Linked DNA regions of Homo sapiens. The protein of the gene in region 5 purifies or fractionates together with the protein of the main gene of each other region. This does not show direct contact. Each region holds a gene or a part of one and is shown on either strand. Other genes may lie near its edges. The genes, in order: PPP2R5A, EXOC6, SAAL1, SACS, C3orf18, EXOC6B and PRORP.

Region 1 (3,500 bases), on a different chromosome or scaffold from region 5:
GTAGAAAGCTTTGATAGGAATGCCTGCTTTCCAGAAAATTAGTATTAAGGCTTAAACCCAAGTAATATGGCCGTAATTTTGGTGCTGGAATGGCCTATGTTAGAAATTGCAAGATCTCTATATCGAGAGATCTTTATGAGTTGGAAAATATTTTCCTTTCTTAACCTGGGTATTTATCTTACTCTCTCTCCTCATCCTGCTCCTATTTTCATTAACCCAACTCAGCCAAACCAGATAAAAGCTGAATAACTGGCCATCATCCCTCTCCCTAATCGTCAAGGTTTTTTGTTTTTTTGTTTTTTTTTTTGTGTCATCTCGGCTCACTGTAACCTCCGCCTCCAGGGTTCAAGTGATTCTTGTGCCTCGGCCTCCCTAGTAGCTGAGATTACAGGCACACGCCACCATGCCCAGCTAATTTTTTTTTTTTTTTTTTAAGTAGAAATGGGGTTTCACCATGTTGATCAGGCTGATCTTGAACTCCTGACCTGAGGTGATCCGCCTGCCTCGGCCTCCCAAAGTGCTGGGATTACAGGCATGAACCACCATGCCCAGCCTCTATCTTCCATTCTTTAAAAATAAATCACCTGTCTTCCTTATCCACCCCAAATTAATTAAATAAAATTTTATTTGTATACTATTTACCAAGCATGAACCATGACTTTTCAATATGTGTTATTATGGGTTTTCTTTTTCTTAATTCTAATGGGAGTTATCATAGATTTGTATTAAGGTTTTACTTTTTTCTTTTTTTTTTTGAAGACAGAGTCTCACTCTGTTGCCCAGGCTGGAGTGCACTGGTATGAGCTCAGATCACTGCAACCTACGCCTCCTGGATTCAAGCAATTCTTGTGCCCTTGCCATCTGAGTAGCTGGGACCACAGGCCTGTGCCACCATGCCCAGCTAATTTTTGTATTTTAACTAGAGACAGGGTTTCACCATGTTGGCCAGGCTGGTCTCAAACTCCTGGCCTCAAGTTATCTGCCTGCCTCAGCCTCCCAAAGTGCTGGGATTACAGTTGTGAGCCACTGCACACCTGGGAATCAACTTCAGAGGTTTATGTGGTTTCATGTACAAATATATGGTTTCTAATTCTCCTGAATTGTCTTCAAAAACTGTTTACAGCTGTTTCTAGAAAAGACTGTAAATCTAAAAGTCAAAAAACTAATAAAAATTAAGGAGTGGAAAAATGTCTTTTGTTCCATTACACAAAGTTCAAGTGAAAGGGAGAATACTAAGTATATGATTTTTTCAAGCATCCCTACGGATAGCCTGAGAAGGTTCATAATATAGTAAAAATACATATATATTTTAGTTTTTCAAACCCTTTGCTATTTACTAAATATTTATTAGGTTGCTGCTAAAGTGATTGTGGTTTTTGCCATTAAAAGTAATGGCAAAAGCCGCAATCACTTTTGTACCAACCTAATACTAGGTAAATATTTAGACTGAACATGCCTAGAAAGCATTCTCTCAAAATACTTACTTCACCAAGGTTAAAATGTTTTCTATGCTTTTATACTTTTCTGTTTCACCCTACTTCATCTTTTGTTTTTCTTGAATCCTCAGTAAATTTTCATAACTAATTATGTTTTCACTCTCTCCTGAATTTTCATTCTAGAGGCAAATAACAGTAGAATTCAAAGCCTAAGTTGCCTTGCTGGTTCATAAACTACTTTTATTCCAAGATTACATCTTATATCTTAATCACCAAAAGCAAGGAAATGTTTTCTATCCCTATCAAGTGGTTTATTGTTAATGAGTGGCAAAAATTCTATTATTAAAAACAAAACAAAATTCAAGGGAGTAGTAGTTTTGGGACCCTCGAAGTATGCTTTAATTCCAAAAGGTGAATGAAGATTTAAAAGATTATTGGTGAAGACAGTATGCATATAAAATTTCACTGTGGTCATCTGATCCTATCATCGTACATCTTAACTACTACATATTAATAGTAGTCTATATTTCGGTTATTCAAGACATAACTCACGAGAACTCTCCCCTCCTAACCCCTTCTTTTAATGTAGATTAATCTCACATTTCTTCTTCTAAATGATTTTAGCTTAACGTACATTATTCTACTTAATAACTATAAAGGCTATAAAACGAAAGCTACAATGAAATGCTATTAATGCAGACCAAAAACATGAAAATAAATAGAACACTTACTGGCTCTGTTAGTGTTGTATCTTTCTCCAGGAACTGTACAACACAATATGCTAGCTAAAAGGTAAGGGACAGTTTATAAATATTAGTGAGATAACATTTAATAATGTAGGATTTTTATATTTAGCCAATATTTTTTAGACTACCTCATTTTGATAAATTATTCCAATATATAAAAATATACTCACAACTGTGAATGAAATTGTGAAATACCTCAATCGTGAAACTATACTCACAATTGTGTAACTTTTTAGCCTTGAAAGTAACTTCAAGTTTAAAAAACATTTTTAGTAGTAATTTCTGACTATAAAGTTAACTGAAATAAGACTAGAGCTAACAATTTAGTTTTTCAGCATGTTTCTACATGTACACCTATGCTGATATATTATTCTCTAAATATTAATAGAAGAGACCAAAATCTCTCTAACTAGGTCTAGGTTATTGCAGCTGGAAGAAACATTCTGTAGATATGTGGGATTTATTCAAAGTCACATAATTAGGTCAAGACCTGGACTATAATATGAGGAAAGTGTGTATCTTAAACTGTAAGTGTAGATATAGAAATTAAATAATTGGTCTTACTTAACAACTAAATACTTTAAAATAAGAAAAATTTGCTTTGGGTAATTTTGTAAGCAAATTGCTTAATTATACTTAAAACTGTCATCTCAGTATTTCTCAATTTCTCTGCCTTTATATTGGCCTTTGAAATAATATTCATTTCATCTGAAATGTTTCTGAAACTTACCTGAGCATGAAACAAAGCTAATCCTTTTGCAGTATGCATAGGAATAAGAACCTTCATTAGAAATTGTTTATGTTCTGCTTTCAGTGGCAATGCAAAGCCATTGATAATACTGGAGGGAAAAAAAGGCAGGGGAAGGGTTAAGTAGTTACTACTTTGTTTCTAAAAGCTGTCATATCCATGAGTACATAAGGAACAGTGCTATGCTTCAATCCTGGTGTTGTATGACTGCTCATCTTCAAACTACTTTAGGAAGACTATTACTATGAAGTCTGTTCCTCTAAGTCATTTGATGATTCCAAAAGAAAATTAGGACTGTCAATTAATTCCCAAGTAATTTCTATCTTCATTTTCTATCAAACCTGTCACTTTATGCATTGTTGCTTTTATTTTTGCCCCCAAAGCTCCAGGAGAGTCAGTACCACAATATTGTTAGAATGTTCAATATTTTTCTGAAGTAAATGGGTAATTTTTCTTACTTTGTTGGATAACGTGAAAGAAGTAGTTCTCTCCACAATCATTTTCTACTATTAATAAAGGAAACTAAAATCATTGTCTAAATAGTAACAGAAGGGTCTAAAATTCTCTTAA
Region 2 (3,500 bases), on a different chromosome or scaffold from region 5:
TTTAAAACACAAGTACATTCATTTTTTACAATGCAAGTTACTACAATAAAATCTTGGGGGTGATTGATAATATAACAAAAGTAGTTAAAGAGAATTCTTTTTAATAGGAAACTTTTAGAAAGAGCTGTAAGGTTAAATTAGCAAGCCCATTTTACAGATAAGTGATCAGTACATGGTTTATCATTAGTTTAATAAAATATTCAATTCAAGGGGATTTATACACACTAGACTAAGCCAGTGTCTCATCTATGACTCCAAATAATAAAATACCTTATGAAATTGTTTAATCTTACATTCTACCTAAAACAACCATTAATTAATCCTCAGTATATTCTGTATATTATTCAAACAGAAATCTTTCCACCCGCAAAAGAGGTAGGACTTCAATGACATGTAATAATATTTATTTTTCTTCAGATCAGAACCAATCAAGGATGGAAAACAAATCTATCCTTTTTTAATTTGTCTTACATTTTAAATTTTCAAAAATAAACACTCATATAGAATTAATTTTTAAACTGTGAAATATTAATTCAGTTAGACCTAGTCAGCACTACTATAAATCATCAAAACATGAACAAAGCATAATACACTGTAGAAAATAAGTATACTTTTCTCCATGTTAATAAGATGTTTACAGTGCCAAAAAGAAACTGACATTTACTTGCTCATTGTTGACAATGAATACCTCTATTCTTAATTTTTAGGAATATAGTAGATCTTGCATATATAAGAACGGTCTTTAATTTCTTAACGTCTGCTTACAGTGACTGAAATGAAAACTTTTGGTCAAATTTTTACATACCTTGAAAGTAGAAAGTCCATAAAGTCTTGTAGTATGAACAGTTTCTTGGGAAATATTTGTAATGTTAGTTATAAAGTCCTCAAGATATTTACAAGCTTGCTCCAGGTGTGTTGTGTTTATGATGATTTGTACCAGCTAGAAAACACAAGATATATCTAGTAAAATACAGGTTACATGTATGTAAAATCACCTAATTTTTAAAAATGGGATTATTACTTCCAGCAACTGTACCATTTCTACATAATTGCAGCATTATAGGATACAACTATCTGATTTTAAAAGCCTGTTGCAAATACTGCGTATGAATTTATATATATATATATATACACACACACACACACACACCAAGAGTCTAAATACCAGTTATTTTAAAATAACTTTTCATAGTATGTTTCAAATCTTAAACATTTAGCAAGTAAAAAATTAGGATTGTGACTTTTCCTGTAGTCTGGCAATCAGAAATCTAAATAGATATTCTAACATCTTTATCTACTATTCCCCATATGAACCCTTTTCCCTCATTTTTTTATTTTTTCTTCCAGAGACAGGGTCTTGCTGTCACCCAGGCTGTGTAGTGCAGTGGTATGATTGTAACTCACTGCAGCCTCAACCTCCTGGGCTCAAGTCCAGAGTAGCTAGGAATATAGTTGCACACTACCACGCCTGGCTAATAGTCTTCATTTTTTGTAGAAACAGGGTCTCACTATATTGCCCAGGCTGGTCTCAAACTCCTGACCTCAAACAATCCTCCTGCCTTGGCCTCCCAAAGCTCTCGGATTAGAGGTATGAGCCACTGTGCCTGGGATCCTCACATTTCTGGAATTTACACTGGTGTTTTTATTTTGAAAACAAATCTGCTTATATTAATACATTTAAAACAGGAAGCTAGTTTTACAGAATGACGTTCAGCAATAATTTAAAATAATTGTTTCATACAATGAAACATTTCACTATATGTGTCTTTTTAACCTACCTCTGTCAAACCTATATGAGGTTTTCTAATAAGGTTCAGTAAACAGCTACTCAAAGTTCTGGTCAGCAGCAGATTTGTTGATTTTCTAAGCATATCGTCTATTTCTGTTGAGCTAAAAACAAAGATTGATATTATTAAACTTAATAAATAATGAATGTGGTTAGTTAACATCCTAAATAATTTAACACAGTTTACTAAAATAATTTTCCCCATCATTATTTTATATCTTTAAATAAACTACAAAGACCCATATTTATTAAATCACAAACTTCAATTTAACTTTGCAAAAGGGACATTTTCCATAAAGTAGAATATTCATATATGGCATAATTTAAATTTATCCAATTAACAACCACAGAAAAATCATAGAGGACTTGGTATAAGGAAACAAAATTATTCCTAAATTCCGACTCCATCATGGGATAGTAACTTTGTTGTTTTATTATTTTTATTATTGTTTTTGAGCCAGGGTCTCACTTTGTCACCCAGGCTGGAGTACAGTGGTGCAATTATAGCTCACTGTAGCCCCAAAGTCCTGGACCCAAGCAATTCTCACACTTCAACATTCTGAGTAGCTGGGACTACAGATGCATGCCACCATGCCCAGCTAGTTTCAAATATTTTATAGAAACAGGGTTGCACTATGTTGCCCAGGCTGGTCTCAAACTCCTGGACTCAAGTAATTCTCCCACCTTGGCCTCCCAAAGTGCTGGGATTACAGACGTCAGGCACCGCGCCCAGCCCCAAAAGACAGTCACTTTGAAAGAAACTTCATACACAACTATAGCTAAAAATTATTTTTAAAATACAAACTGATATGAGCTCTTTCTAGATATAATAAACAAATTTAATTTTTAATATAACTAAGTTATCCATTTTCATTGATTTTTTAAGTCTTCAAAGAAATAAATTACCTTAAACTAATTTTAATATGATGTTTCTTAACATCCTAAGTATTACTAAGCTAGCACTAAAAAACAAATTCTCTTCTCCTAACCATTCGGTCTTCAATTTAAGTAAATAATGATTTCTTGGATACAGCCTCATTATCACAACAGTTAAACTGTCTGTAGACCATGGATTATCCATCTCGGCACTATTGACATTTTAGGGTGGATAATTCTTTGTCGTGGAGACTGTCCTGCACATTTGGATGTTTGGCCTCTATCCACTAGTTTCAAGTAGCACCTCTCCCCTGAACTGTAACAACCAAAGATGTTTCTAGACATTGCCAAATTTGTGGGGAGGAGGTGGTGGCAGGAGAACCAAAATTATCCCCAGTTGAGAACTACTGCCTTAGATACAGGCTAACATTTTTGCATCCTTTTACTTTTTATTAAAATACTACTTTTAAAAATCTGTGGGCCAGGCGCAGTGGATTGTGCCTGTAATCTCAGCACTTTGGGAGGCTGAGGTGGGTGGATTGCTTGAGGCCAAGAGTTCAAAACCAGCCTGACCAACATGGCACAACCTCATCTCCACTAAAAATACAAAAATTGGCAAAGAGCAGTGGCGCGAACCTGTGGTTCCAGCTACTTGGGAGGCTGAGGTGGAAGGATCACTTGAGCCCAGGAGATCGAGGCTGCAGTGAGCCATAATTGTGCCACTTCATTCCAGCCTGGGCAACAGAGTGAGTTCCTGTCTCAAAACAAAATAAAAACAAAAGCAAAAACAAAAACAAACACAAAGAACTACCATTCAACCCAGCAGTCCCATTATTGG
Region 3 (3,500 bases), on a different chromosome or scaffold from region 5:
TTTGTTTTTGGAACTCAAAGTTAGTGATAAAAATAGTTAAAAACATTCTGAAAACTTAGAATGAAGAGGAATTTGCCTTATTAGGTATTAAAACATAAAACCTTAATATTTAAAAACACTATGGCTACTAATATATGAATACAGCAATGGAACTGAACAGAATATATAGGGGAATTTTAAAAATAATGATGAAATTTCAAATCAGTGTGGGTAAGCTGGATTATTCACTAAATGATGTTGAGATAACTGGGTAGCCCTCTGGGAAAAAACTGATACCACTAGAACCAAAGTTATCAAAGGGGGAAAAAAAATTAAAGCCACACTTCACATGTGACACGAGAATAAATTCTAAATGAATCATGAATTTAATTGTGGTCATAAAAACAATTCTGTGAAAGAATATGTGTTTATATAGGAAAATATTCATTTTATATTTCTAAATGAAATGTTGGCTAAAAAGCAGAATTAAATATATGTGCATGTGTGGGATGGTAAGATTACAAACATCATGTTTCCTTGATATTTTTTATAAATTTTTCGGCAGGGTGCAGTGGCTCATGCCTGTAATCCCAGCACTCTGGAAGGCAAGGCAGGAAGGTCATTTGAGCCCAGGAGTTTGTGACAAGCCTGGGCAAGATTGTGAGACCCTGTCTCTATAAATATTTAAAAACTAGCCAGGTGTGGCGTCATGTGCCTGTAGTCCCAGCTACTCAGGAGGCTGAGGTGAGACAATCACCTGAGCCCAGGAATTCAAGGTTGCAGTGAGCTATGATCCTGCCACTGCACTACAGCCTGGGCAACAAAATAAGACTCTGGCTTTAAAATAAGTAAACAGGCCAGGTGGGGTGGCTCACGCCTGTAATCCCAGCACTTTGGGAGGCCGAGGTGGGTGGATCACCTGAGGTCGGGAGTTCGAGCCCAGCCTGGCCAACACGGTAAAAACCCGTCTCTACTGAAAAAATACAAAAATTAGCTGGGCATAGTGGTGTGCGCCTGTAATCCCAGGTACTTGGGAGGCTGAGGCACGAGAATCACTTGAACCCAGGAGGCAGAGGTTACACTGAGCCAAGATTGTACCACTGCACTCCAGCCTGTGCAACACAGCAAGACTCTGTTTCCAAAAAATAAAAATCAATAAAAAATAAAATAAATAAATATGATAATAAAATAAATTTTTGAAGTTTAGCATGTAATGTTTTTATAATTAGGGAAATGAAAGCATTTTTTAAAAGGGAGAAATAAATGAAATGAAAAACAGTATGAGCCTGGGAAACTGTACTTGCCTTTTTCTATCTTTAGATACTCTTGCTCAGTCTGTGAGGCATAGATGGCAGACAACACTGAAAAAACAGAGGCTAGCACTGTTTTCTGTTCTTGAAGAATGATGGGTGGATCATCAGACTGGCAGAATTCATGGCAGACCAGGTCAAAAAGTAAATTCCAAATGTCTTTTCCAGTGTCAGGACAATGTACTTAATAAAGAGGACAAATAAAGCAGTACTTTAAAATCAGCAAACAATTAAATGAGTAACTGTAGTGCATCCCGATAAACCACCTTACCAATTGCTTGAATTCCATCATCCACTGTAGTAAGCAGTTGTAAAATGTGCATGTAAACATCAAGCCATTCTGGATTTTCAGAACTAAATAGGAAAAGTAAAAGCACTGAATCAACAACTTTACTGTCCAGGGGATTCCAATCATTCCTCCATTCAATAAATATTTATTACTCTGCCAGCCACTGTTCAAGGTGCTGAGGATAAAACAAGGAAAGGAACGAAGTCTCTGTGTTCGTTAGAGCTTTTATATTCTAATAGGGGAAACAGCAAAAAATAAACAAATATTATATAATATAATCAACACACACAGGACAAGAAGTAAAAAAACTTTTTGGCTCTATCTCATAAAAGCAACAACGCAGAAACCTACCAGTTGATACTTTATCATTTTGGTTTGCTTGAATAATCAGAACAAAAAAAGACTGCGATTTTTATAGTATGAACGTTAAGGTCCGCTGCATCACGCATCAACAATAATGATGTTCTGAAAATGTCTCAGGATTAACCTAGCTCCCTAGCTGAGAACACTAAAACCATGTAAGTCTAATTCTTATGATCAACCGTTTGGATTCTCAAAAATCTAAATAGTTTGGAAACTCAAAATCTTAGTTCTTCAACCAAACAAGTGAAAAGACAGTGAACAATTAAAACAATGGTTTGGCAAATGTTTATTTAAGTACTTACAAATTTCAGGCACTATGTTAGGAGTTGAGAAAACAGATGTATAAGATGTTATCCCTACCTTCATAAACTTTATACTCTAAAAGGAAAGAAGATTCCAAGTGGGGTAATTACAATAAAGTGGTACTAATGTAGCACTATGGGCTAGGAACTTCACAAAGCAAGGAGACTTAGTTTGCAGGGTCAGGGAAGGTATCTTAAGAAAAATGATGTTTACACAGAAACATGAAGGGGCAAAGAAGTGTCTGAGGTGGAGGAAACATACTGTGCAAGGGCCTGGAGACAAGACAGCCTGGTTCAGTTGAAGAAGTGACGCAAACTTCACATGACTGAAACGCAGAGTACAAGGAATAAGGATAGCGCTACTGGGTCCATAAGCTGTACTTTATTTTTTTGAGAATTTTTCATTTATTTCATTCTTTTTTCCCCTATTTTATTTATTTATATTTTGGATTCAGAAGGTACATGTTGGGGGTTGTTACATGCATGATGCTGAGGTTTGGGAATATGGATGGTCCCATCACCCAGGTGATGTATGTAGTACCCAAGCTGTGTTTGTTTGTTTGTTTTTCTGGACCTTATCCTAAGGAAGGCAACTGAAAAGACCGAAGCATGAGAGTGAAATGAGTGCGTACTTTGCAAAAACAGCTTTAAAGTCTAGGCTTGGGAAGAGCAAGCATAGAGGCAGGGAATTCAAGTAAAAGAATGTGGCAGTTCTCCAGATGAGAAACAATAATGGCTTGATTGGCATGGATGGAATCCCAGAAAATGTCAGGAATAAGGGTTGGGAGTTGACTGCAATGGGAAAATACTGGGGCAGGAAAGATTCAGTAATTGGCTTCTCCATTTCTTCTACATTATCCAAATAGGATAATGATTACATCATTTACTGAGATTGAGAATACTGATGAAGCAGGTTTAGGGAAAGATGATGAATTTATCCCTCACTTGGATAAAGGACACAAAATTAATAGGTTTTGATGTGGCTTACTCAGCACTAAGAATGCACTAAGAAAAACACTAAGCAGATCAATTTAAAAATTAATTTTCTAGTGATTAGCAATAAACAGTTTTAATGACCTGTAAGGCTTAGTAATCACTCTTGGCAAGACATCAGAGTCCCAACATCGGTCACTTATTGAAGACTGGCATATAAACACAAGGAGCAAAAAAAAGCAAATGATGTGCAACGTTAATGAAGTTGTTAAATGTTCAATGTAAAATAAAGCACAAGAAAATGTTTTCTCTTTGATTTAAATT
Region 4 (2,187 bases), on a different chromosome or scaffold from region 5:
TTAAATAAAGCTGAAGGCACAGAATTCAGGTAGCTCCAGAACAGAGAGCACTCTTAGCCCTCATCTGCCTAACTCTGAAGACTTGTGCCTCAACTATAAAGATGAAGAACTCCTATCTGTCAGTAATAAAGTGTGAATTAGTCCCAGACATGCAGCTGTCCCTGAGGCAATGGAAATATCAATTCAGCTCTACCTAGAGGAAAAAAATATTTAATGTATCTGTTTCCAAACACATATATACCACATATATCAGCTAATCTGATTCCCTAAAAAGGTGACATAAACTCAACTAAATCAATGAGCACCTAAACCTAGTATATAACAAGCACTTCATATTCTATTAATCCTAAAAATCTATAATTCCAGCATGAAAATATACAGGAAAATATTTTCCTAATATTTCCAATAAATACACACATACACACACATTAAAACTTAATATTAAGATGTTAAGTTTGATTTCCAATGAACTATTTCTCAGGAAACACCCATTACGATGATTTCATATGTACATTTTCCTTTATTAAAAGTATGGCACTTTATATAACAGCAGAAATAATTACATGATTTCACATCCAGAAGCAATAAAATGTGGAGGTGCAAACATTCCTTATTCCCAATAAAAGTAAAAAAAGTTTCAACATGTTCTGTAAGCCCTTAATTGCATAAAGTATATTTAGCATCATTTACAGCCAGTACACTTATATAAACTAATTATCATTACCTTTTACATTCTGCAAAAGAAATATGTTAAAGTAAAGAAGCATGGCGAGACAAACATGAATTAAATGTCAGTTCTGATCATTCATGGGGAAATATAAGCCGATAATTATAAACTACTAGATAACACAATGATTTTAACAATTTTTGATGTTTTTAAAGTTAAAAAAACTCCACTACATGCCATATTGAAAGAAAAGGTTGTTTTTTTTTTAACTGCAGCACCTTTAGACAACAAAAGATTGCATCCTGTTCAACCACACTATATAAATTATAACATTTGTGGAAAATATGTACACACAAACATAAAGCAAGTGTTCTAACAGTTAATAAATGTTGTCTTGGCAAGCAGTTTCCAGAAACAATACTAACAACTGGTAATAAGAACTGCCACCATTTTGAGTTTTCCGTTGCTATCTTCATCAAACAGGAAGCCTGTAAACATAAGATGTTAAAAAAAAATTTAAATAAAGATGTAAAGTGCACTCAGTGCACTCTAAAAAGTACTACCTTCACACTCTTAGTCAAGTAATAGGATTAAAATACTCTACCATTTCTTAAATGCACTGAGTACAACATAAAATTACAACAAATTCATGATCAGAGCCAGCTGATGAGAAAATAACGCATCCAAGAGGATCCACTTAAAAAAATGACAGACTACAAAGACTTAATTCCCCTTATGTTTAAACCAATTATATGTCCAGTGTTTCATTAGCTCCTTCAAAAATACCATGTTAAAAACATAAAATTAACTTCATCCTAACCAGAGACATACATAGACTCTTATCTAACAAACTGCTAAGCTTTGGTTATATAAAGTGCAGTTCAATGATGTATCATCCCAATCATTCAAATCCATCCAGCTATTTTGCAGCTCACCACCATCTTCAAAATAGTTTTCTTTTAGATTCAGTTAAGGTTTTCCGTTGGTATTCATGTTCATAACAACTCCAGAATTCTCCAAGAACAATCTGCAATGTGCTTAACAATTCCTAGCTAATTGGCAATGAAGCTTAATGAAGTACAGCAATTTATTCGTGCTACAACACATTCAAGATCTACCTTTTTTTTCGTTAAATATCTTCACACTTTTTGTTGCATAAAATTTTCAAGTTTTATTATGATACAGGCAGTACATTCCATCACCCTCATAGCAACCTCAGAAGTGAACCTGTCATTTGGGATCTGAGGAAAGGGAAGCAAATCAGGGTATCTTGTTTTTAAACTGTCTACACCATAAGCTTCCAATGTGTGAACATCATTTGTCAGTCCTTCAAGTTGCTGACTATATTCCTCTATTTTCTGAGCAAGTGCAGTTGGTTTTACATCTTTATCAGACTTTCCCCTCACAGCATAGTCAGCTGCAATCAAAGCTAACTTGGTAGAAAGGTAACATTTAAAGCACACCCACTCATTGGCATTTTTATGAAGGTCATTCCTGGCAGCTGAGAAGTTTGCTCTGGC
Region 5 (3,500 bases):
GCCCCCTTCCTCCTCCGGTCTCACAAGGTCCTGTCCAGTTGACCTTTCCACCCTAGGGGGTGACAGGCCTTGGGACCCCAATCCACAGTTGGGAAATGAAGCCCCAGGGCAACCTCGAAGTCAGGGCCAGAGGCATTTCCTCAGACGGCTCAAGAGAAACCTGGGGTGCCACCTCATAGCTGTGATCCAAGCAACTATCCCCAGGCCCCCCACAGCCCCTCACCCATCCTGCCCCTCCTAGGGTTCCACACCCCAAGCGTCACAGGCTCACACACTCTCCATGTAAACATCTTCATTACATCTTTAATGCTCTCACGTGGAGCTGCTCTGGGTTAAATTACAGCTGTATGCATCCTGAATTCCTGGCAGCCTCCAGTCGACTCAAGTGCTAACGTATTTATAGCATTTAGAGGAGGGAATAAATCCAGAACCTTCCCCATGGGGGCTTCCTAGGCCTTTCCCTCCTGACACATGGCATTTGCCCAGTGGAAGGTCTGCATACACTACCCCTGCATCCCCTCCAGCCAGCAGCGGACAGTGACGGTGGAGAGGCTGGGCACGGGACATGCCTCTGTGCATGCTTGTGTGCATATGTATGCCCAGCGTAAAAAAATGCCCTGCTCTTGTGGTCTGTCTCTGCCCAATGGCTTGCCAGGACCCCTGGTATCAGCCCTGACCCTCCAAGGCTTATGGAGAGGCCAAGTGCAGGGACCCATCTCCCCACTCTCTAAACACTGAACGGCTCTTCCCATAGATGGGATGGAGGTGGGGAATTCAAACATAGACTAAGTTTTTTAGATGTTTTTCTGAAGTGCAATCCCTCACCCACTTTCAGGCAGTCATAACTGCCCCCTCTAGCCTGCAGCCTGTGATTACTGCCCTCAGACCAACAGCCTCTCCCAACCCCAGATCCTCATTAGAGCCCAAGACAGGGAGCCGTTTTCAGAAGCAGGTGAGCCCAGTGAAACAATGCAGTGGAGAGAGGAACCGTGCTGTGCGTGCTTCCCTCTTCCCTGCAGTCCCTGAAGATTGAAGGCAGAGAAGATAGCCTACCCTGATGCTCCACTACATACCATGGGGTAGAGGTCGACTTGGAGGGTGGGGCCAGTGTGGACAATCTCATTCTGCCCGCTGTGCTGGGACAGGCACATGTCTGCCCATGGGCACACTCATGCACATGCATGAGGCCTCTCGGCAGGTCTGGGGGGGCTGCATCCTTCCACTTCCATTCCCCTACTTCCTTCCCCCTCAGCTCCCATCCTAGCTTGGCCCCAGTAACATCTGGTTGCCAAGGATGGGTGGCTGGGAGACCTCCTGGACCCTCCGTAGTATGGATGGACCCTGGGTGTGAATTGCCCTTCTCCTGGCATCCTTGCATACTGGACAGTTTCAGCTCCATCTCTGGGCTTCTCAGGGCCCATAACAGATGCTGCCCTACCCTGTCCCTATAACTTGGGTGGTTTCCTCTCCCCACCCCAGAGGAGGCTCCAGATTCCAAAAAACAGGTCTCTCCCTAACAGAGGGAAACCTCCCCTTTCCTCCCCCAATCCCTCCCACTCCGTATCTCCCTCATTTCCTCCACATTAGCGGGGCAGACCCTGATGTGAGGGATCTGGACAGGGGATGAGGAAGCCAGCAGAGGCTCTTGACCTTCTCAGCATGAGGGATGCCCTCTGTGCCAGGGCCCTCAGGTCAGGAGAAGTCAGTGGTCAGAAGTCCAGCCTGGCTAGGGCCCTCTCTTAGAGTCTAAAGTCAGCAGGTGGGTCTGGAGAACAGCTAGGACCTGGCTCAGCCCTCTTGTGTCTTGGCAGGGAAGATCTTCAGAGTAGGTCTTGACAATCAGGGAGTGGGGAGCTCTGTAGGCACCGTGATGGGTCTCTATCAGAAGTCCAGGCTTGTCCCAGGCCACTCACGCATGGATGGCATTGGCCACATCGGTAAACACCAGCCGGCTGGGTCTCTGCAGTGGGCCCTGGGAGGGCAGAGTAGTCTGCAGGAAGACAGGCAGGGGCATCAGAGACCATGGGCAAGGCCATGCACTCACTGGCCTGGTCACCTCCACCCTCACTTCCTGGTGCCTGCTTATGCTTGGCACTAGCAATGGCTTCTGCCTGGAATGCCCTCCCTGCAAGCTCAGCCTACAAATATGACTTGGCTCAGATGACTCCTCCCCAGCTTGCCCTGTCACCTTGGAGGCACTTACTGTGTTGATTTAATTATGCATGCACTGCCTTTTCCCAGTGGGGGATCAGAGGGCTGGACTCTGTATCCCCAGGCCCTAGCACAGGGGCTGGTACAAGGAGGAACATGGGAAACAAGTATCAAGTGGCCAGAAGTCCCAGTGGCTGGGTGGACCAAGGTTCTCAGTGCGAGTTCCTGAATATCCCAAGGGGGCAATATATCTTGACCCAGGTGATGCAGAGCTGGTGGCAAAACCAAAGGGTCTTCAGACTTCCAGCCTGGATTCTTTCTGAGCCCAAGAAGACGCAAAGAGGCTGGATAAGTCAGGGGCAGGCCAGGCCTGCTCATGGTGCTCTGGCCCTTGGGGATTTGGGGAAATGGTGGCAAGTGGTCAGGCAGCCCAGTGGTTACAACAGGATGGCCACACAGGTACCTATCCCTTTGGACACAGGAGGCAAGTTTGGCTGAGATCTTCACATGCCTGGGTCTGTCAGCCACTGGGAATCCACCAGCCTACTCAGAGGTACCGCTGTCCAAGAGTCTAACCCCATCCACAACCCACTCAGGACCACGGACCCTCAGGAAGCAGAGGAACCTGGGGTCCTAGCCGCCAACAGTCTCTCCCATTAGTCCTTTCCTACTTTCCTAACCAGTACGTGGGGGCACATGGGGCAAGAATTAGGATTTTCAATTGTGGAAGAGAACACTGAGGCTCAGAGATGCCAGTGGGGCTCCCAAGATCAGCAGGCTATGGGGCAGAGCCAGGCTGTATCCCAGGACTGCCTTGGCCTGGCCTTGCGCTGTGAGTTTGTGGGTGGCCCCAGAGCAATATGACCACTTTCTGAACAAATCTGGAAAAAGCCGTATACCCAATACCTGCCATCTGACCACAAGGCAGGTGCTAGAAAGCTGCATGAGAAAGGAGGGAGGGTGAGGGTGGAGGACAGAGGATGCTGCAGGCGGGGTGGGGAGCCTGGTCAGTGCCCACCTTGCCCTGCATGGCCTGCACAGAAGTAGCAGCCTGTACAGAGGCGGCGTCCCGCCCATGCTCCAGCAGCTCCTGCTCCAACTCATCTTGTTCCTCCGTGGGGTCGAAGTTGTACATGGGCATGAGCTGGTGGCGTAGCTTCTCCAGCCTGGGGATGGGGGCAAAGGCTGCTGGGGACAGGGCAGGCCCTTCCCCTCCCAGCAGCCCTCCAGGCCCTGCCTCCTGACTAGCTGAGCCACAGCACACAACCATGCTTAGGGCCTTAAGGTTTCCCTTGAAATGGGAAAAAATGACAGACATTTTTGCACCTATAGTACCAGCTCAACCCCTT
Region 6 (3,500 bases), on a different chromosome or scaffold from region 5:
GGTAGGGGAGGCTGCTGAGGAGCTCCCTTCGGTCAGGGCTTTATTTCAGGCCCCACACTAGCAAGAGTATTGAGTGTGCCAAGAAGCTGAATGGGAACAACCCTTTACCTGGCACAATGGGAGAAAATCCCTGCCGCCACTCCCAGCCCCAAAGGAATTAGTAAGCCAAGGGTCACTGTAAGGGCCAAGGATAGAGAAGGCAGCCAGCCAGTTGGCACCAGGCTGGTTTAGTAGATTAGTATGTCAGGGCGGGGACAACTCAGAGGCTAGGGATTTTAGTGTAGTCATTAGTGTCAATGAGGAAACCAGAAGGACTTGCCTCAAAGTGATGGAAAAGGCCCAAGTGAATAATATACTTACTCTCTAGATATCCTAGGGCGGAAGGTCAGTGGGAGAGAGAACCATGGGAAACAAAGTTAAAATGGAAACATCAATCTCTGACGTGGTCAGGAGAAAACTGCAGTCTGAGTTTTTAGTCTCTTGGCTCCAAATACATACACCTGCATCATGCTCTTGCCTACCCTTCATCTCTTCCCCTTTTCTCCCCCTTTCATATTACATAGTAAGAAGGATAGACTTTGACCTCTCCTTCTGCTTAAGGCTCCACTCTGACTTCCTGGACTCTGAGCCTTGTCTTCCTAGGATTTGAGACATGGTTGACTGGCCATATATGTAGACTTCCTACACTGCCTAGATGCAGGGCATTCTTCCAAGTAGCTGGGGCTTAACTAGTTTCTCAGATTTCAAGAGAAACCTGCCTTTTTATATGGGTCTTGGTCTCTGACCTGCCAGCTCTCTAATAGATTAGCAAAGCCAGAGCCAGGCTGTAATACATAGCATTTCCCAGCTTCTGGGTGACATATTTGTTAGCCCTGAGATTTCCTGGAGCTGCCTAACTTACTTTCAGTGGTAGCACCTCTGCTTCAGAGAGGCTACAGCTCTGTGGCAGGGAACCCTCTGCAGGCTAGTGACTGCTTAAGGCAAGAATTAGACACCTTCTCCAACACAGCTTTGTTGGGATAGTCAGCACAATAAAGCTCAGTCTGGCAGGGGGTGGGAGCTGGGAACAGATGAAGGTTTCAATAATTCTAAATAATTTCCAGGGATTCTCTACTAGGAACCAGAGAAACCATCTGTTCTGTGGAGTTGCACTATCCATCATCATACCCCAGGTGACTAGGGCAGCCTCATTCTGTTCACCAGGCTGGCCTGAGCCCCAAACCGAGCCATTTTTTTTTCTCTTGCCATATCTAGTAAGAGACGCTAGTAAGAGACCCATTAAACTAGAAGGTAATGTCAGAATCCAATTCTGATCCATACTTGGCCTGGCTTGTTGGGGGCTCAGGAATTAATAAGCCACAGGAGGAAGACTGGCCTGCCAAGTCCAGTGACTGAGATTGCTGACAGCACCCAGGGCCTATGGCAACTTCCAGAACAAGGCTATCTTTCAAGGTATTGGCAGTGGCAAAATTATCTTCTACGCCAACCCCCAATCCCTGTCTCCCCACCTCCCAACACAGACCATTGGACAAGGTACTCACTTCTCAAGCAGGGTCAGAGCAGTCACTGGGTTTACCCGGAGGTACTTGCAGTTGGGCTGACCATAGTCAGCAAGGTAGGTTGACCAATCCCACTGGATGAAAAGATCCAAAAGCTGTAAAATATCCAAACCCCACCCCAGGGATTAGTCAGACAGACAAGACAAACCAAGATTCCAGAAACTTCATCATCCTTCACTACCAGCTAATAAATTGGATATATAAAAATTAAAATATAATAAGAAAAAGAACAGCTGCAGACTATTCTTTCAACCAAGAAAATAAGTGAGTAAACATTAGATGGCAGACTTATCTCTGCCATAAGCAGTATGGAAACATTGCTAAGACTATATGCCAGCAGTCAGCTCTCAGAGGCAACCCTGTAAAGAAACTAACACGGGACTGAATCAAATATGATAATAATATCATAATAATTATTCACTTACTCATTTAATAAATACTTATCAAATGCCTTCAACATGCCAAGAACCATTCTCAGTATTCAACAAAGAACAAATAAAGGTGGATGTAGTCCAGTGCCACATATACAATTGTTTGAACTTCAAGGTTAAAAGGTCTGGGTTCAAGTATCAGTTCTGTGACTTGCTGTACTGACTTAGCCCAAGTGACTTAGGTAATACAGACATATACACATGCCTATATACAAATAGGACACACAGATAACACAGAAACACTGAAACAAGGCATAAATGGATCATGTAGCATTTATAAGAGGCAATATGTGTTACGTCTATGCAGACACAGGCTAAGAAGATGAAATCAGGGCCATAGTAGATTAGCCCATGATTGAGGACACAGAGTCTAGCTAGAATTGGGTTATGAGTGTTAAAGAGAAGTGCCAAGAGCTAGATGTGTGAAAAGACAATGAGAGCTTTCTGAGGGTGAGCTGAGTTCTGACACGGGAGATTTTGACTGAGAGAAACTAAACTTTTGTCAAAGGCTTTCCTTCCCAGTCAGTTTTAGCCTCAGACATCACACTAACAAATATTCAAAAATTGTAACTAAGTAAAACAAACAAATAAAAGCTTCTAGAAGGGGCACAGTCCCAGACTCATATCACTGCATAGAGGGAGAACCCTCACAGTACTTTTTGACTCAAGACATTCTCCATTTCTCCCTTTCCAGGAGATAGGTAAGTGCTGATGAGGACAAGTAGATGGCTGGTTGTGCAGAACAAAGGCAGAGGGCCAAGAGTGCAGTCATATCCAATGCCAGAGCCTGGGCTCTAGGCACACCTTCCTCCATGTCTGTCTTCACTGTGCAGCTGGGCAAACAGGCAGTATGGGCCTTGCCCTGTTTGGCCAAGTCTCCACTTCATCCAGTTTCTTAGAATAGCTGTTATGAACTTCCTGAAGCAGGATGGGAATTGGCTGAAGTCCCAAACCTAAAACTTAGAAAAGTCCCTATACCCTCAGCCAAGAAAGGGATTTTAGAGATGAGAGAAGGAGTGGGGGAGAGACAGGCACACTGGTTGGTCTGGGCCAGGATGGTCCCAAACGGCCCCTCAGGCCATTTTCAGGTCATGCCTATTTTCATTAGCAAGTTAAAAGGCTTCTACCACTTCCTTCTGTTGACCCAAGGCCTCAGAGAGTTATCCTTTAGAAGAGAATTTCCCTTGACTTTCTACTCTAGTATCAGTATTTCTTTCTTTTTTTTTTTTTTAATTATACTTTAAGTTCTAGGGTACATGTGCACAACGTGCAGGTTTGTTACATATGTATACATGTGCCATGTTGGTGTGCTGCACCCATTAACTCGTCATTTACATTATGTATATCTCCTAATGCTATCCCTCCCCCTCCCCCCAACCCCACGACAGGCCCCGGTGTGTGATGTTCCCCTTCCTGTGTCCATGTGTTCTCATTGTTCAATTCCCACCTATGAGTGAGAACATGAGGTGTTTGGTTTTTGTCCTTGCGATAGATAGTTTGCTGAGAATGA
Region 7 (3,500 bases), on a different chromosome or scaffold from region 5:
CGCTCAACTACATGGAAATTGAACAACCTGCTCCTGAATGAATACTGGGTACATAATGAAATGAAGGCAGAAATAAAGATGTTCTTTGAAACCAATGAGAACAAAGACAAAACATACCAGAATCTCTGGGACACATTTAAAGCAGTGTGTGGAGGGAAATTTATAGCACTAAATGCCCACAAGAGAAAGCAGGAAAGATCTAAAATCGACACCCTAACATCACAATTAAAAGAACTAGAGAAGCAAGAGCAAACACATTCAAAAGCTAGCAGAAGGCAAGAAATAACTAAGATCAGAGCAGAACTGAAAGAGACAGAGACACAAAAAACCCTTCAAAAAAATCAATGAATCTAGGAGCTGGTTTTTTGAAAAGATCAACAAAATTGATAGACTGCTAGAAAGACTAATAAAGAAGAAAAGAGAGAAGACTCAAATAGACACAATAAAAAATGATAAAGGGGATATCACCACCGATCCCACAGAAATACAAACTACCATCAGAGAATACTATAAACACCTCTACGCAAATAAACTAGAAAATCTAGAAGAAATGGATAAATTCCTGGACACATACACCCTCCCAAGACTAAACCAGGAAGAAGTTGAATCTCTGAATAGACCAATAACAGGATCTGAAATTGAGGCAATAATTAATAGCCTACAAACCAAAAAAAGTCCAGGACCAGACGGATTCACAGCCAAATTCTACCAGAGGTACAAGGAGGAGCTGGTACCATTCCTTCTGAAACTATTCCAATCAATAGAAAAAGAGGGAATCCTCCCTAACTCATTTTATGAGGCCAACATCATCCTGATACCAAAGTCTGGCAGAGACACAACAAAAAAAGAGAAATTTTAGACCAATATCCCAGATGAACATCGATGGAAAAATCCTCAATAAAATACTGGCAAACTGAATCCAGCAGCACATCAAAAAGCTTATCCACCACGATCAAGTGGGCTTCATCCCTGGGATGCAAGGCTGGTTCAACATACGCAAATCAATAAATGTAATCCAGCATATAAACAGAACCAAAGACAAAAACCACACTATTATCTCAATAGATGCAGAAAAGGCCTTTGACAAAATTCAACAGCCCTTCACGCTAAAAACTCTCAATAAATTAGGTATTGATGGGACGTATCTCAAAATAATAAGAGCTATTTATGACAAACCCACAGCCAATGTCATACTGAATGGGCAAAAACTGGAAGCATTCCCTTTGAAAACCGGCACAAGACAGGGATGCCCTCTCTCACCACTTCTATTCAACATAGTGTTGGAAGTTCTGGCCAGGACAATCAGGCAGGAGAAAGAAATAAAGGGTATTCAATTAGGAAAAGAAGAAGTCAAATTGTCCCTGTTTGCAGATGACATGATCGTATATTTAGAAAACCCCATTGTCTCAGCCCAAAATCTCCTTAAGCTGATAAGCAGCTTCAGCAAAGTCTCAGGATACAAAATCAATGTACAAAAATCACAAGCATTCTTACACACCAATAACAGACAAACAGAGAGCCAAATCATGAGTGAACTCCCATTCAAAATTGCTACTAAGAGAATAAAATACCTAGGAATCCAACTTACAAGGGATGTGAAGGACCTCTTCCAGGAGAACTACAAACCACTGCTCAACGAAATAAAAAAGGACACAAACAAATGGAAGAACATTCCATGCTCATGGATAGGAAGAATCAGTATTGTGAAAATGGCCATACTGCCCAAGGTAATTTATAGATTCAATGCCATCCCCATCAAGCTACCAATGACTTTCTTCACAGAATTGGAAAAAACTACTTTAAAGTTCATATGGAACCAAAAAAGAGCCTGCATTGCCAAGACAATCCTAAGCCAAAAGAACAAAGCTGGAGGCATCAAGCTACATGACTGCAAACTATACTACAAGGTTATAGTAACCAAAACAGCATGGTACTGGTACCAAAACAGAGATATAGACCAATGGAACAGAACAGAGCCCTCAGAAATAATGCCGCTTATCTACAACTATCTGATCTTTGACAAACCTGACAAAAACAAGCAATGGGGAAAGGATTCCCTATTTAATAAATGGTGCTGGGAAAACTGGCTAGCCATATGTAGAAAGCTGAAACTGGATCCCTTCCTTACACCTTATACAAAAATTAATTCAAGTTGGATTAAAGACTTAAATGTTAGACCTAAAACCATAAAAACTCTAGAAGAAAACCTAGGCAATACCATTCAGGACATAGGCATGGGCAAGGACTTCATGTCTAAAACACTAAAAGCAATGGCAACAAAAGCCAAAATTGACAAATGGGATCTAATTAAACTCAAGAGCTTCTGCACAGCAAAAGAACCTACCATCAGAGTGAACAGGCAACCTACAGAATGGGAGAAAATTTTTGCTATCTACTCATCTGACAAAGGGCTAATATCCAGAATCTACAAAGAACTCTAACAAATTTACAAGAAAAAAAACAACCCCATCAAAAAGTGGGCAAAGGACATGAACAGACACTTCTCAAAAGAAGACATTTATTCAGCCAACAGACACATGAAAAAATGCTCATCATCACTGGCCATCAGAGAAATGCAAATCAAAACCACAATGAGATACCATCTCACACCAGTTAGAATGGCGATCATTAAAAAGTCAGGAAACAACAGGTGCTGGAGAGGATGTGGAGAAGTAAGAACACTTTTACACTGTTGGTGGGACTGTAAACTAGTTCAACCATTGTGGAAGACAGTGTGGCGATTCCTCAGGGATCTAGAACTAGAAATACCATTTGACCCAGCCATCCCATTACTGGTTATATACCCAAAGGATTATAAATCATGCTGCTATAAAGACACATGCACATGTATGTTTATTGCGGCACTGTTCACAATAGCAAAGACTTGGAACCAACCCAAATGTCCATCAATGATAGACTGGGTTAAGAAAATGTGGCACATATACACCATGGAATCCTATGCAGCCATAAAAAAGGATGAGTTCATGTCCTTTGTAAGGACATGGATGAAGCTGGAAACCATCATTCTGAGCAAACTATTGCAAGGACAGAAAACCAAACACCGCGTGTTCTTATTCATAAGTGCGAATTGAACAATGAGAACACTTGGACATAGGAAGGGGAACATCACACATCAGGGCTTGTCGTGGGGTGGGGGGAGGGGGGAGGGATAGCACTAGGAGATATACGTAACGTAAATGACGAGTTAACGGGTGCAGCACACCAACATGGCACATGTATACAAACCTGCACATTGTGCACATGTACCCTAGAACTTAAAGTATAATAAAAAAAAAAAAAAGAAAAAAAAAAGAAGAATGAACTGTCAAAATCTCTAAGTCCTGTTCTGTAGGCCAAGGAGGAGTGAACCTTAGGTATGCCACTCTACCAGTACAACCGTGCTGAAAGAACAAGGCTGTAAAACGTATAGGTCCTCTTTTGTCATTAAGAGGCTTTTATTTACCTATGGCTGTTTTGGAGAGGTAAAGATTCAGCCAATC

What was found.
Region 1: the proteins of C3orf18 (region 5) and PPP2R5A purify together in Homo sapiens (co-immunoprecipitation; one large-scale study listed by IntAct). This does not show direct contact.
Region 2: the proteins of C3orf18 (region 5) and EXOC6 purify together in Homo sapiens (affinity purification with mass spectrometry; one large-scale study listed by BioGRID and IntAct). This does not show direct contact.
Region 3: the proteins of C3orf18 (region 5) and SAAL1 purify together in Homo sapiens (co-immunoprecipitation; 2 studies listed by BioGRID and IntAct, with this or other methods). This does not show direct contact.
Region 4: the proteins of C3orf18 (region 5) and SACS purify together in Homo sapiens (affinity purification with mass spectrometry; one large-scale study listed by BioGRID and IntAct). This does not show direct contact.
Region 6: the proteins of C3orf18 (region 5) and EXOC6B purify together in Homo sapiens (co-immunoprecipitation; 2 studies listed by BioGRID and IntAct, with this or other methods). This does not show direct contact.
Region 7: the proteins of C3orf18 (region 5) and PRORP purify together in Homo sapiens (affinity purification with mass spectrometry; one large-scale study listed by BioGRID and IntAct). This does not show direct contact.

Annotation. Positions count from the first base shown.
Region 1 is NC_000001.11:212,347,910-212,351,409, reverse strand, and holds part of PPP2R5A (serine/threonine-protein phosphatase 2A 56 kDa regulatory subunit alpha isoform), read right to left. Parts: intron 3,022-3,500; coding exon 2,913-3,021; intron 2,222-2,912; coding exon 2,168-2,221; intron 1-2,167. UniProt on the Homo sapiens protein: The B regulatory subunit might modulate substrate selectivity and catalytic activity, and might also direct the localization of the catalytic enzyme to a particular subcellular compartment.
Region 2 is NC_000010.11:92,953,020-92,956,519, reverse strand, and holds part of EXOC6 (exocyst complex component 6), read right to left. Parts: intron 1,891-3,500; coding exon 1,779-1,890; intron 941-1,778; coding exon 806-940; intron 1-805. UniProt on the Homo sapiens protein: Component of the exocyst complex involved in the docking of exocytic vesicles with fusion sites on the plasma membrane.
Region 3 is NC_000011.10:18,085,583-18,089,082, forward strand, and holds part of SAAL1 (protein SAAL1), read right to left. Parts: intron 1,644-3,500; coding exon 1,561-1,643; intron 1,473-1,560; coding exon 1,284-1,472; intron 1-1,283. UniProt on the Homo sapiens protein: Plays a role in promoting the proliferation of synovial fibroblasts in response to pro-inflammatory stimuli.
Region 4 is NC_000013.11:23,328,330-23,330,516, forward strand, and holds the end of SACS (sacsin), read right to left. Parts: coding exon 1,807-2,187; 3' UTR 501-1,806; downstream 1-500. UniProt on the Homo sapiens protein: Co-chaperone which acts as a regulator of the Hsp70 chaperone machinery and may be involved in the processing of other ataxia-linked proteins.
Region 5 is NC_000003.12:50,557,748-50,561,247, forward strand, and holds the end of C3orf18 (uncharacterized protein C3orf18), read right to left. Parts: intron 3,318-3,500; coding exon 3,170-3,317; intron 1,991-3,169; coding exon 1,910-1,990; 3' UTR 1,400-1,909; coding exon of another isoform or gene 917-1,399; 3' UTR 278-916; downstream 1-277.
Region 6 is NC_000002.12:72,182,534-72,186,033, forward strand, and holds part of EXOC6B (exocyst complex component 6B), read right to left. Parts: intron 1,655-3,500; coding exon 1,542-1,654; intron 373-1,541; coding exon of another isoform or gene 357-372; exon of another isoform or gene 320-356; intron 1-319. UniProt on the Homo sapiens protein: Component of the exocyst complex involved in the docking of exocytic vesicles with fusion sites on the plasma membrane.
Region 7 is NC_000014.9:35,174,552-35,178,051, reverse strand, and holds part of PRORP (mitochondrial ribonuclease P catalytic subunit isoform 1 precursor), read right to left. Parts: intron 1-3,500.